Homo sapiens: one gene and its partner. The protein of the gene in region 2 purifies or fractionates together with the protein of the main gene of each other region. This does not show direct contact. Each region holds a gene or a part of one and is shown on either strand. Other genes may lie near its edges.

Region 1 (3,653 bases), on a different chromosome or scaffold from region 2:
CACAGCAAAAGAAACTACCATCAGAGTGAACAGGCAACCTACAGAATGGGAGAAAATTTTTGCAATCTACTCATCTGACAAAGGGCTAATATTCAGAATCTACAAAGAACTTAAATTTACAAGAAAAAATCAAACAACCCCATCAAAAAGTGGGCAAAGGATATGAACAGACACTTCTCAAAAGAAGACATTTATGCAGCCAACAGACACATGAAAAAATGCTCATCATCACTGGCCATCAGAGAAATGAAATCAAAACCACAAGGAGATACCATGTCACACCAGTTAGAATGGAGATCATCAAAAAGTCAGGAAACAACAGGTGCTGGAGAGGATGTGGAGAAATAGGAACACTTTTACACTGCTGGTGGGACTTTAACTAGTTCAACCATTGTGGAAGACAGTGTGGCGATTCCTCAAGGATCTAGAACCAGAAATACCATTTGACCCAGCCATCCCATTACTGGGGATATACCCAAAGGATTATAAATCATGCTACTATAAAGACACATGCACATGTTATGTTTATTGCGGCACTATTCACAATAGCAAAGACTTGGAACCAACCCAAATGATAGACTGGATTAAGAAAATGTGGCACATATACACCATGGAATACTATGCAGCCATAAAAAAGGATGAGTTCATGTCCTTTGTAGGGACATGGATGAAGCTGGAAACCATCATTCTCAGCAAACTATCGCAAGGACAGAAAACCAAACACTGCATGTTCTCACTCATAGGTGGGAATTGAACAATGAGAACGCTTGGACACAGGAAGGGGAACATCACACATCGGGGCCTGTTGTGGGGTGGGGGGGACGGGGGAGGGATAGCATTAGGAGATACACCTAATGTAAATGACCAGTTAATGGGTGCAGCACATCAACATGGCACATGGATATATATATATATATATATATGTAACCTGCACGTTGTGCACATGTATCCTAGAACTTAAAAGTATTAAAAAAAAGAAAAAAATTGTTTGCCCCTTGTTCTTTCCCTGCAAAACCCCAATCCCGAATTGGTCTAACCACTCATTTTTCTATGGTTAAGCCCAGACTACAGATTGCTGTGGGAAAATAACTTTGAAGAGACTGGTCTCATTTTCAGTTCATGGCATTCATCTTCAAAGGCTCCTCCCCCTGGAGCTCCCAGTCAGGCTCTCTCCTTTCATTTCCACCAATGGCAGTTTCATCTCCTTATTCAAGTGTCTCACACTGCTACTGTCAGCCAAAAAGCCATTATTATGAATTCCTTCAATTTTCTGACAGCACTTTCCCCTCCAGTTGTATCTGGATTCATCAATGGTTCTTAATTTTGCCTCCACAGGACCACCCTTCACCTCTCCTGTAACTTCTCCTTTCCCACCAAATTGCTTTCTCCCCTCCACCCCTACTACCCATTAAAAATACTTTCTCACCTACTCCCATTTACCTACTATTTTCCTTCCAAAGACAGCTGCTTGAAACAGAAGTTACTTTGTTCATTTTCCTCACTATTCATTAATAACTCTTGCTTTTACCACCCTATGTCATCGTCTCCTAATTGCAGACTCCAAAACAGGTCAGTTCCTTCTCACCTGACCTCTCCATGTTATTAATCCCTTTAAAAAATTTACATGAAGGTATTCACAAAAATCCTTCTAATGGACAGAACTAATTTCTCTTTGACTTCCTCTCCACTCCACACTGTCATTTTAATGATGATATAACTGGGTGTCCTGCCTCTCTCATCTCATCCTTTGCTATTGCATTGTTCTTAATGTTTCTAGGATAACTTTTAAAAATAAAAATATGATTGCGTTATGCCCCTGCTAAATCTCAATAATCTACATAGCCTCTGAATTCCTCATTTATTTCAGGAAGAAACTCAAACTCTAACATGGCATATTTAAGATCTGCAAAACTCTAATATTTTCTCCTAACTTCTGTGAGGACTTCTTTCCAATCCTAGTCTTGAGACATGTTGAACTAATACTATTCCTTTCAATTATTGTTTTGGTTAATGTGTTATTGTTCCTCAACTGTATAGAATGGGTGATGCTCCACTAGGAAATTCAGTTAAGAGCTCTTCCAAGATGCTTTTCCAGATTCCCCCAGCCTCAAGTAGGGTGCTTGTTCTGTGGCACTGCAGTACCTTCCATATTCTAACACAGCCCTCGCTTACAATATTTTAATTACTAAAATATTTATCTCTTTCCATCCCACTAGACTGTAAGCTCCTCTTGAAAGCTAAGTAATGGCTTCTCTGGTTCCACCTGTAACATTAAAAAAAATTTTTTTTTGGTAGAGACGGGATCTCACTATGCTGCCCAGGTTGGTCTTGAACTCCTGGCCTCAAGCAGTCCTCCTGCCTCAGCCTATCAAAGTGTTGGGATTACAGGCGTGAGCCACCACATCTAGCTTCTACCTGTAACATTTAGCCCAGTGCCTGAAATGTAGTAGAGAATCAATGAATGGTGAATGAATGAACAAAATAATAATCAATGTCCTTTAAAAAAGCACAGACTATTTCACTTTTGGTACATTCCAAATTGTAATTTTATTTTACCCCAACAGACAAGTTTCTAAAATTTCCATAGAATCCCTATGGAATCATATTCAAGACAAGGCCACTTTATTTCCTGAGAAGTATTAGAAATATTAGAAAGACGCTGCAGAAGTCTGAGTTAAGAACCTAATCTATAACAGCTCATTTATCACACTAAGAAGAGAATAAGACGGTTCATGAGATTCTGCTTCTTTAAACTAACATAAACTAAGGATACATCAATAGAAACAACCTACAGATCAGAAAAAGTTTCCTATGTGGTTTGGAATGTGTCACTTTAATTTTATTCACTCTAACTTTATTCATTTTAATGTTGTTTATAAAATAACTCTATTAGGACAGAGACTTTGACTATTTTAAGTGGTATCCCAGCACCTGTAAGGAGATCTGGCATATAGTAGTTCAATAAATCTTTCTTCAATAAGTGAATGCACGTAAGTATTTAGCTTCAAATTCAGAGATAAGTGAAAGAATTTTTCTAGCAAAAGCAAAATAATCTAAACATTTGTCTAATTACCTTTTTGCAAATCTGTTTCATTGTGACTTCTTCCAAGTTAGCACTGGCCAGTAATTTCTTTATTGTTTCCTTTAACTCTTCATCTGTAGGGGGTTTCTTCAACTTTTTAATTAAAGGTTCATCATCTGAACTATCCTCAGACTCACTTTCTAAAAGTAATATAATAATAATAATTTTTCTTACATAGTAAATTAACATTTAACAAAGGCTGAGATGAATTTTAAGCTTTCAACAGATTCTCAAAGGGGTACTGGATCAAAAAAATTATAAATCACTACTCTACAGTTACCTATAAAACATGCATACAAATTTTAGTCAATTTGAAAAATCAAAAACTATAAAAAACTGGTATACAGGTTAGGCATCCCTAATCCAAAAATCCAAAACCTGAAATGTTCCAAAATCCAGCTTTTCAGAGCACCAACATGACACCACCAGGAGGTAATTCCATACCCGACCTCGTGTGACGGGTCGCAGTCAAAACTTGGTTTCAGGCCAAGGGCAGTGGTCCAAGCCTGTAAACCCAGTGCTCTGGGGGGCCAAGATAGGAGACTCGCTTGAGTCCAGCAGTTCAAGGCTA
Region 2 (3,653 bases):
GTGCCTTTGTTTTTCTAAATTGTGCACTGGACTTCACCTCCTATAGATGAAAATTTTCTCTTTCTTCAAACAGATGACTCTGGCCACTGGGGCAGAGGTGGTTTATTTACAGCTCTGGAAAAGCGATCCGCTGAGCCAAGAAAAATATATGAGCTGGCTGGGAAAATGAAAGGTAAGAAGCAAAGCAGAGGGAAAGGTTAAGGGTGGAATAAGAGAGAAGAGGACACCTAAGACTGTATCGTGAGGGTTACACAGCACTAGATAAGGAATTAGAATAACCAGTTGGGGACTGAATTCTGTCATAAATTAGCTACTTGTTCTGTGACTTCAAGGCATTCCTTTACCTTTTCTGTACCTGTTTCCTCATCTGTGATTTGTGAATAATACTTGTTCTGCCTACTTCATAGAACTGTAGTAAGCATAATAAATGTGTGTATTCTGAAAAATGTTGATCCCTGCATACATGTTAAAGTATTGGAATGGGCTGGACACAGTGGCCCATGCCTGTAATCCCAGACTTTGGGAGGCTGAGGCAGGAGGATTGCTTGAGGCCAGGAGTTTGAGACCAGCTTGGGCAACATAGTGAGATCCTGTCTCTACCAAAAATTTAAAAATTGGCTGGATGTGGTGGTGCATGCCCGTAGTTCCAGCTACTCAGGAGGCTGAGGTGGGAGGATCACTTGAGTCTAAGAGGTTGAGGTTGCAGTGAGCTGTGATTACACCACTGTACTACAGCCTGAGTGAGAGTGAGACCCTGTTTCAATAAAAAAAAAAAAAAAAAAAAAGAAAAAGAGAACTATTGGAATAAACATGAAGGAATATGTCATGAAAATATCAAAGATCTATGGGAAGCCGGGCGTGGTGGCTCACAGCTGTGATCCCAGCAATTTGGAAGGCCGAGACGAGGCAAGGAATTCAAAACCAGCCTCACCAATATGGCAAAGCCCTGTCTCTACAAAAAAATACAAAATTAGCCAGGCATGGTGGCACATGCCTGTAATCCCAGCTACTCAGGAGGCTGAGGCAGAAGAATCACTTGAACCTGGGAGGTGGAGGTTGCAATGAGCTGAGATCATGCCATTGCACTTCAGCCTGGGTGACTGAGCAAGACTGTCTCAAGAAAAAGACCTATGGGAGAGAAATTGGACATACCATTAAAATGCTGACAAGAACTCGGGTTTGGTGCTGAGTGGAATGAAGATGTGTTAAGAGGTCAGCACAACCTTGGGTATAACACTCCCTGGAGACAGAAATAAAGCTGTTGGGTGCCAGGGGAACTTAGAAGCCTGAACAATATTGTCCTTTGGCACAGAGAAGGGAAAAAGGCACCTCCTTTTACATCCAGAAATAACAAAGTGGCAAGAATAAAATTATTATTGTGGTGATTTTCTGGAGATTGAAGGACCTTGTCTGATAGAGAAGGGCCCTCCAGATTCCTTAGATATTGTTTTTTCCTAATTCTGCCCAGTTCTCTATGGTGGAAAGGGATATAAGAACTTAGAATGACTACTTTTTCTAGTAAAACAAGTTACTGAAAGAAGGGTTTAATGTGTGTTGAAATAGTCAATCCAGATCTAGATGCTGATTGGGCAGTTGGCAAAGCAAAACCCAGGGAAGGTCAGAGCTGGAGGTGCAGATTGAGGAGTCCCTGTTTGGAGTCTGTGTTTAAAATCATGTGGGAGAGAGGATGGAGAAATGAGAGGCAGAGAACAGACCTGGAAAACACCTCTACTTAGGACTTGAGGCAAGAAGATGGAATTTCTGACAGAAGGAATTGTCAGACAATTAGGGAACCTTGTGCGGTATTTTGAGGTACAAGGGAGGAAAGTATGTCAAGAAGGCAAAGAAGTTCATGGTATTAGACACTGAAGTGAGGATGAATTGGGAAAAGGCCATGGATTTTGACCCAAGGTTGCTCACCTTGGAGCACTTTGAGGAGAGTGGGAAGCTCAGACTTAAGGCCTGAGGGCTCAGGAAGGAAATGGAGATGAGAGTGTGCAGTTTTCTCTGAAGGAGGATTGAAGCAGGTTGCAGCAAAGTAGGTGAAACTGTGGATTCCAATTCCCAGGGAAGGCTTCATGGAGGTCCTGGGCCTGGAAAGGTGGGTTGAATTTGAATAGGTGGAGAGAAATGGCAAGAGGATCCCCAACTGCTCATTACAACACTTACTATTCCTTGTCTGTGGGTATTGAAGGACCCAGGCAGTTAGCCTGTTCCTTTGTGTGGAGGATGGCGTACAGGCCATGCAGGCCAGAGTGGAGGGTTTAGGCAGAAGAATAGAGGAGAGTTTCGTTTTCATCAGCGGCTTGGGCCACATCATAGAAGACGTCACATGATTTGTCCAGGGAGATGCCATTCTGCGCAGAACCTTATCTAATGGAATGGGTAATAGCTGGTCGTTTTGGGGGATTTGATCAAAAGGATGGCATAGCACAACCAGTATTTTAGAATGACTGAACAAAAAGTTCAAACTGGTATCAACCTAACCAATAGACAGGGTCTGTAAAATAAAAGGAACAAAGGTTTTTTGTTGTTTTGTTTTTGTTTTTGAGATGGAGTCTCATTGTCTGGAGTGCAGTGGCCCGATCTTGGCTCACTGCAATATCCACCTCCCAGGCTCAGGAAATCCTCCTGCCTCAGCCTCCCAAGTAGCTTTGTACCACAGGCGCACACCACCATGCCCGGCCACTCTTTTGAATTTTTGGTAGAGACAGGGTTTTGCCATGTTGCCCAGGCTGGCCTCAAACTCCTGAGCTCAAGTGGTCCACCTCCCTCAGCTTCTCCAAGTGCAAGGATTACACACATAAGCCACTGCACCCAGCCTGAGGTTTTTAAGGAGAAATGAGGAAGATTACATACTTTTTTTGAATCAGTTATCCTTGGCTACAAGGATTAGTAAGGGTGGCACCACGCCGAGGTTGGGCAGGCAGTTGATGAGCAGATGTCTTTGCAGAAGTATATTTTTATGTAAGCTTGCCAGGGCCCTTGTGCAAGGTCATGGGTTTTGTAAAATCTGTTGTGATAGTTCTTGTTATCAGACGTTTATGCATTAGAACCTTCCCTTCATGGCCTTCCCTGGCTCTATTTGTCAGAGTTTTGTTTTATTTTTTGAGATAGGGTCTCACCCTGTCACCCAGGCTGGAGTGCACTGGCGTGATCATAGCTCACCACAGCCTCGAACTCCTTTGCTCAAGAGATCCTCCCACCTCAGCCTCCCAAGTAGCTAAGACTACAGGTTCACAACACCAAACCTAACTTTTTCTTATTTTTTGTAGAGACTGGGTCTTGCGCCTTGTTGCCCAGGTTAGTCTGGAACTCTGGCTTCCAGCAATCCTCCCACCTCAGCCTCCCAAAGCACTGGGATTATAGTCATGAGTCACTGTGCTCGGCCATATATGTCAGTTTTTAACACAAGCATCTCTATTTTGATTCTAACCGCTTTCACATCAGCTTATGTAAAGCCATAGAATTAAATTAGCACATTTTTCTTCACTATCAGTTTTACTTGATTTGGATGGGGTAGGAAAATATATTATACAAACAGGTAGAGATAAAGTAGAATGTAATAATTTGAATGATTTAGGACAAGCACAAAACTACCAAAGGAATTTCAAGCTCATAGTGCTCCCTCCCCAAAGCCCCCCAGCTACCTC

The links. The genes of interacting proteins can lie anywhere in the genome.
Region 1: the proteins of CHD1L (region 2) and DEK purify together in Homo sapiens (affinity purification with mass spectrometry, with the first as the bait; one large-scale study listed by BioGRID). This does not show direct contact.

What each region holds. Positions count from the first base shown.
Region 1 is NC_000006.12:18,233,379-18,237,031, forward strand, and holds part of DEK (protein DEK), read right to left. Parts: intron 3,223-3,653; coding exon 3,074-3,222; intron 1-3,073. UniProt on the Homo sapiens protein: Involved in chromatin organization.
Region 2 is NC_000001.11:147,287,562-147,291,214, forward strand, and holds part of CHD1L (chromodomain-helicase-DNA-binding protein 1-like), read left to right. Parts: intron 1-73; coding exon 74-172; intron 173-3,653. UniProt on the Homo sapiens protein: ATP-dependent chromatin remodeler that mediates chromatin-remodeling following DNA damage.